2 linked regions of the Homo sapiens genome follow. The protein of the gene in region 2 interacts with the protein of the main gene of each other region in a pairwise test. Each region holds a gene or a part of one and is shown on either strand. Other genes may lie near its edges.

The links.
Region 1: the proteins of SASH1 (region 2) and KIF3B interact in a two-hybrid assay, tested with the Homo sapiens proteins (one large-scale study listed by BioGRID).

The regions. Positions count from the first base shown.
Region 1 is NC_000020.11:32,319,103-32,322,760, forward strand, and holds part of KIF3B (kinesin-like protein KIF3B), read left to right. Parts: intron 1-3,658. UniProt on the Homo sapiens protein: Microtubule-based molecular motor that transport intracellular cargos, such as vesicles, organelles and protein complexes. Uses ATP hydrolysis to generate force to bind and move along the microtubule. Plays a role in cilia formation.
Region 2 is NC_000006.12:148,541,727-148,545,384, forward strand, and holds part of SASH1 (SAM and SH3 domain-containing protein 1), read left to right. Parts: intron 1-1,953; coding exon 1,954-3,092; intron 3,093-3,658. UniProt on the Homo sapiens protein: Is a positive regulator of NF-kappa-B signaling downstream of TLR4 activation. It acts as a scaffold molecule to assemble a molecular complex that includes TRAF6, MAP3K7, CHUK and IKBKB, thereby facilitating NF-kappa-B signaling activation.

The DNA of each region.
Region 1 (3,658 bases), on a different chromosome or scaffold from region 2:
GCGGCATGCCACCCTACTTGGCTAATTTTTGTGTTTTTTGTAGAGATGGGGTTTCACCATGTTGCCTAGGCTGGTCTCAAACTCCTGGGCTCAAGCAGTCTGCCCGACTTAGCCTCCCAAAGTGCTAGGATTACAAGTGTGAGCCACCATGCCCGGCCTCTCCACATCCTTGTCGACACTTGTTATTTCCTGTCTCTTTTATCATAGACATCCTAACGAGTGTGAAATGGTACTTCATTATAGTTTTGATTTGCATATTTCTCTGATGACTAATGATGTTGAGCATCCTTTCACGGGCTTATTGGCCATTTGTATGTCTTTGGAGAAATATCTATACAAATCCTTTACCCCATTTTAAAATGGGGTTGTTTCATATATATATATATGTATATATTTCGTATATATATGAAATATATATATTTCATACACACACACACACACATATGTGTATATATATAGTTTTTTTTTGTTTTGTTTTTGTTTTTTTTTTTTTTTTTTTTGGAGTTGGAGTCTCGCTCTGTCATCCAGGCTGGAATGCAATGGCGTGAACTTGACTCATTGCAACCTCTGCCTCCTGGGTTCAAGCGATTCTCATGCCTCAGCCTCCCGAATAGCTGGGAATACAGGCACCCGCCACCATGCCCGGCTGATTTTTGTATTTTTAGTAGAGATGGGGTGTCACCATGTTGCCCAGGCTGGTCTTGAACTCCTAACCTCAGGTGATCCACCTGCCTTGGCATCCCAAAGTGCTTGGATTACAGGCATGAGCCACCATGTCCAGCCAATAATTAAGTTTTAAGAGTTTTTTTTGAGACAGAGTCTGGGTCTGTCACCCAGGCTGGAGTGCAATGGCATGATCTTAGCTCACTGCAGCCTCTGCCTCCTGGGTTCAAGTGATTGTCCTGCTTCAGCCTCCCGAGTAGCTGGGACTATAGGCATGTGCCACCATGCCCAGCTAATTTTTGTATTTTTAGTAGAGACGGGGTTTTACCATCTTGGCCAGGCTGGTCTGGAACTCCTGACCTCAGGTGATCCACCCGCCTCAGCCTCCCAAAATGCTAGGATTACAGGCGTGAGCCACTGTGCCCGGCTGAGTTTTAAGAGTTCTTTATATTAATATATTATGAATACCACTTTCTCATGAGATTCATGATTTGAAGATGCTTTCTGTTATTCTGAGTTGTTTTTAAACTTTCTTGATGGTATTACTTATAGCACAAAAGATTTCCGTTGTGATATAGCCCAATTTAATTGTATTTTCTTTTGTTTATTTTACTTTTGGTATTGTATCTAGATTTGCCTTTTCTGGACCTTTCATATAAGTTTATAAATGAAATAATGTTGGAATAATGTGGCCTTTTGTGACTGCTTTCTTCATATGTGTGTGTGTGTGTGTGTGCATGTGTGTGTTTTGTTAGTTTTTTTTTTTTTTTAGAGATAAGGCCTTCTTCTGTCAATCAGACTGGAGTGCAGTGGTGCCATCATAGCTCACAGCCTTGACCTCTTGGGTTCAAGTAATCTTCCTGCTTGAGCCTCCTGAGTTGCTAGGACTTCAGTTGCATGCTAGCACACCTGGCTAATTTTTTAAAATTTTTTCATAAGGATGGGTCTTGCTGTGTTGCCAAAGCTAGTATAGTGTTTTCAACAGTCTTCCATGTTGTAGCATGTATCAATACTTTATTCATTTTTTATGACCAAATAATATTCTGTTGTATAAATATACCACATTTTATTTATCCATTCATTATTTGATGGACATTTGGGTTATTTCTACTTTTGGGTGTTATGAATAATGCTGCTGTGAACATTCATATTCAAGTTTCTTTTGTGGACGCATGTTTCATTCTCTTAGATCCTCTAAGAGGCTTATAGTGTTAGGTCTTACATTTAGGTCTATGATCCATTTGAGTTAATTTCTGTGTATGGTATGAGGTAGGGTTTCAAGTACAGTGTTTTGGATGCAGATATCTAGTTGTTCCAGCACCATTTGTTGAAAGGGCTTTTCTCTCCCATTTCATTGTCTTGGCATACTTATTGAAAGTCAGGGCCGGGCGCTGTGGCTCATGCCTGTAATCCCAGCATTTGGGAGGCCGAGGTGGGTGGATCACCTGAGGTCAGGAGTTCGAGATCACCCTGGCCAATATGGTGAAACCCTGTCTCTACTAGAAATACAAAAATTAGCCAGGTGTGGTGGTGCACACCTGTAGTCCCAGCTACTCAGGAGGCTGAGGCAGAGGAATCCCTTGAACCTGGGAGGTGTAGGTTGCAGTGAGCTGAGATCATGCCACTGTACTCCAGCCTGGGCAACAGAGCAAGACTCTGTCTCAAAAAAAAAAAAAAGAAAGTCAGTTGACCGTAATTAAGCATTTATTTATTTATTTCTGGACTTTCAATACTGTTCCATTGTTCTATATATCTATCCTCATGCTAGTACCATTCTGTCTTAATTACTATAGCTTTGTTAGTTTTGAAATCAGGAAGTGTGAGTCCTCCAGCCTTGTTCTTTTTCAGGAGTGTTTTGACTGTTCAGGGTCCCTTGCATTTCCATATTCAAACATACTTTGTTTTACTGCACTCTGCTTTGTTATAATTCACAGATATTACATTTTCTACAAATTGAAGGTTTGTGGAAACCCTGCATAAAGCAAGTCTGTTGGCACCATTTTTTCAACAGCATATGCTCTCTTCATGTCTCTGTGTAAGCATTTATTAGCAATAAAGTATTCTTAAAGTCTATACTTTTTGTAGACAAAATGGTATTATACATTTAATAGACTACAGTATAGTGTAAGCATAACTTTTATATGCACTGGGAAACCAAAAAATTGTGTTACTTGCTTTATTGTGATACTTACTTTATTGGAGTAGTCTGGAACCAAACCCACAGTATCTCTGAGGTATGCCTCTACATTTTAAGGTCAGCTTGTCAATTTCTGCAAACAAAGCCAGCTGGGATTTTGATATTGATCACATTGAATCTGTAGATCAATTTGGGCAATATTGTAATCTTAACAGTATTAAGTATTCAGATCCATGAACATGAGATGTCTTTCCATTTATTTATTATTTCTTTAATTTTTCTCGAGAATGTTTTGTAGTTTTCAGTGTATAATTCTTACACTTTTGTTAAATTTATACCTAAGGGTTTTTTGGGTGCTATGGTATATGACATTGTTTTCTTAATTTTATTTTTGGAATATTAATTACTAGTATATAAAAATACTGGCTGGGCATGGTGGCTCACACGTGTAATCCCAGCACTTTGAGAGGCCCAGGTGGACGGATCACCTGAAGTCAGGAGTTTGAGACCAGCCCGGCCAACATGGTGAAACCCTGTCTCTACAAAAATACAGAAATTAGCCAGGCGTGGTGGCGGGTGTCTATAATCCCAGCTACTTGGGAGGCTGAGGCAAGAGAATCGCTTGAACCCTGGAGGCGGAGGTTGCAGTGAGCCGAGATTGCGCCATTGCACTCCAGCCTGGGCGACAGAGCGAGAATCCGTCTCAAAAAAAAAATTTTATATATTTATATATATTTATATATATATTTTTATATATTTATATATATATTTATATATTTATATATATTTATATATATTTATATATTTATATATATTTATATTTATTTATTTATATATATTTATTTATATATATATTTA
Region 2 (3,658 bases):
ATTCACCTCCTTAGAGTTTGTCCTCTGGGCACCTTGTTTGCCTCACTCTAATTCCAATTCTAAGAAGCATCTTGGGGACCTCAGAATTTGAGCCATGATGCCCTGCTATTCAAGGTTTTCTATCAACTTGGGAAGATAGTAGTTCTCCCCAAACTATATATAATATTCAGATAGCCTCGGTCAAGACAGGATGCAAAACTCACCTAGTATCCCAGTACATCCTCAGTTTCAGTAAACATCAGAATCCTTATGTAGCTCATGTAGGTTCTGAAGAATTTTTTTTTCTCTTAATAACCTTTTCATATCCAAAACTTTTCAGGAAATTAATTCCCCCAACTGTTGGTGATTGGTAAGGATCTCACAGATATCACTGGCAGAATTTTTCATGCCCAAATGAATTCAGGTGTACCTGCTGAAGAACTAGATTGCTAGCGAACCATACTTTGAACTCAAAGTAAGTTCAGGGATCTTTCTAATGTAATGCAGAATGCAAAAATGGAACTTATATATATAGTTTTATATTGGGAGTTAAGGGAAAAGAAAGTCATATTTCTAAATTTATGCTAAAGAGGTTCTAATAATTTTCTATTTCAACCCACTTTTAAAATCTGATGCAATTTTTTTTTTCTGAAGAGGTATTTCTTCATTTATCTGTGATGATTTTTCTTTTCTTTTTATGAGGCGGAGTCTCGCTCTGTCGCCCAGGCTGGAGTGCAGTGGCGCGATCTTGGCTCACTGCAAGGTCCACCTCCCGGGTTCATGCCATTCTCCCGCCTCAGCCTCCCGAGTAGCTGGGACTACAGGCGCCTGCCACCATGCCCGGCTAATTTTTTATATTTTTTATGAGAGACGGGGTTTCACCGTGTTAGCCAGGATGGTCTCGATCTCCTGACCTCGTGATCCACCTGCCTTGGCCTCCTTAAGTTGTGATGATTTTTCTAATAATGAAAAGTAGGACCATGGTCAATATCTTCAGTAGTAGCACTAGGCTGATGATCTTTATGTAACAACAATAATATCCTACAAATGCATAGCATGTTGGTGTTTATCAGTGTGGAACATACAGGTGGACAGGGTCAAAGCACACAACAAACATGTTATCAACCAAAAATGTAACAAGGGACAGTGTGTGTGTGTGTGTGTGTGTGTGTGTGCGCGCGCACATGTAAGTACTGATGAGAACAAAGCATTCAGCACATTGTCTGGCCCATGAATTGTAAGTTCTTGGCAAAGCTTATCCAACAGCAGCAGTTTAGTATCAACTACCAGTCGTCAGATAAGTAGATTATGTCTGGTTGATAGTTCAGTTATCAGTCTGGCAGTTGTAACTAGGACTGTTGCTTTGCTGGGACCTAAAACTTTATCAGTATTTTGTAGATTTTCTTTGGCAAAGTACTCACAAAAGTTTACCTGTCTGTGTCCAGGTTGGTTGATTGCTTCTAGGATAAACTTACTAGAAGGAGGGGCTTCAGGGAAGGTGGGATTTGAGTATTCACAGATCACTCTGTAGGGGATACCATTTATAGAACCTGTTGTGAAATTCAGTCCAGCTCTCCTTTTCCATCATGACCTTGAGAAATTGTACTCACCCAACAAATCTCATCAATATGCGGTATGATGATCAGCCTCTTTCCACGTCGATTGCAGTGGGGCACAGACTTAAGCCAAGATTTATTTTACTGCTTGACACAGCGTATTTCTTTCCCATGTAACCCAATTAATTTCAGTCTTCATGATTCCTTTAATAAGACTAAGAATTCTTTCTAAAAATAAAAATGGAACCATAATAACCCTCTATCACCCGATGTCATAAATGGTGATTTTATGTTTTTAGTGTAATTGAACAATAGGATGTGGGTGTTGGAGATTTCAATTATGTTAGCACAACTTTATGCATCCGTTTGATTGATTTGCTTTTAAAATGTGATTGTAAAATATTCCCTTGTCTCACAGGCAAGACTCGGAAAGCTAGCCTCCTATCTGCCAAGTCATCCACCGAGCCCAGCTTGAAGTCTTTTAGCAGAAACCAGTTGGGCAATTACCCAACATTGCCTTTAATGAAATCAGGGGATGCACTGAAGCAGGGACAGGAGGAGGGCAGGCTGGGTGGTGGCCTTGCCCCAGACACGTCCAAGAGCTGTGACCCACCTGGTGTGACTGGTTTGAATAAAAACCGAAGAAGCCTCCCAGTTTCCATCTGCCGGAGCTGTGAGACCCTGGAGGGCCCCCAGACTGTGGACACTTGGCCCCGATCCCATTCCCTGGATGACCTTCAAGTGGAGCCTGGTGCTGAGCAAGACGTGCCTACCGAGGTGACAGAACCGCCCCCTCAGATTGTACCTGAAGTGCCACAGAAGACGACCGCCTCTTCCACGAAGGCCCAGCCCCTGGAGCAAGACTCTGCTGTCGACAATGCATTGCTACTGACCCAAAGCAAGAGATTTTCTGAACCTCAGAAATTGACAACTAAGAAACTGGAGGGCTCAATCGCAGCCTCTGGTCGCGGCCTGTCACCCCCTCAGTGTTTGCCCAGAAACTATGATGCTCAGCCTCCTGGAGCTAAACACGGTTTAGCAAGGACGCCTCTGGAGGGCCACAGAAAAGGACACGAGTTTGAAGGAACACACCATCCCCTGGGCACCAAAGAAGGGGTAGATGCTGAGCAGAGAATGCAGCCCAAAATTCCATCACAGCCTCCACCTGTTCCTGCCAAAAAGAGCAGAGAACGCCTTGCTAACGGACTCCACCCTGTTCCCATGGGCCCCAGTGGGGCCCTCCCCAGTCCCGATGCGCCATGCCTGCCAGTGAAAAGGGGCAGCCCCGCCAGCCCCACCAGCCCTAGCGACTGTCCCCCAGCACTGGCTCCCAGGCCTCTCTCAGGGCAGGCGCCTGGCAGCCCACCAAGCACAAGGCCGCCCCCCTGGCTCTCAGAGCTCCCCGAGAACACAAGCCTCCAGGAGCACGGTGTGAAGCTGGGCCCGGCTTTGACCAGGAAGGTCTCCTGTGCCCGGGGAGTGGATCTAGAAACGCTCACTGAAAACAAGCTGCACGCTGAAGGCATCGATCTCACGGAGGAGCCGTATTCTGATAAGGTATCAAAGGTCCTGGGCCCACCACGTTCACAGGCCTTTGTTTGTAGAAGTCAGGCAGCCAGGTGAGATGAACCCACATCTGAAGCCAGCCCGGTAGCCCGCCCAGTGGACAGGAGACACCTGAATCCACGTGTCCACACCTTACTTGACATGCATGTGTTCAGATATTGACACCACCCCATTTCATCTCTCCGTAGGTAAACCGAGGTTAAAAATAACCTGCATGAAGACCTCTTAGAGGGATTACTAGGAGCAAATAAAATAAATGTGGACAAAAGAACCCTATTCAGATGTGATAATTGTATTATACAGTTATCTGTATGGGTAATGGGAAAAAGATAATATAAAATCCCCCATTGTACCAAAAACATTTAGCTGTATAATGAAAAATTATTTCTCATTCAAAAAAAATGAGATCTACCAATACCAAGTGACTCCAAAGACAAAGCAATGCTAACAGATACAGCAGTACTTTACTCCTGGAAATACAGGTCCTATTAGGATGCATTCCTGAGAGTCCTTTATTATAAAATTCTCATGACAATGAATGCCTTAGAATCAGATCC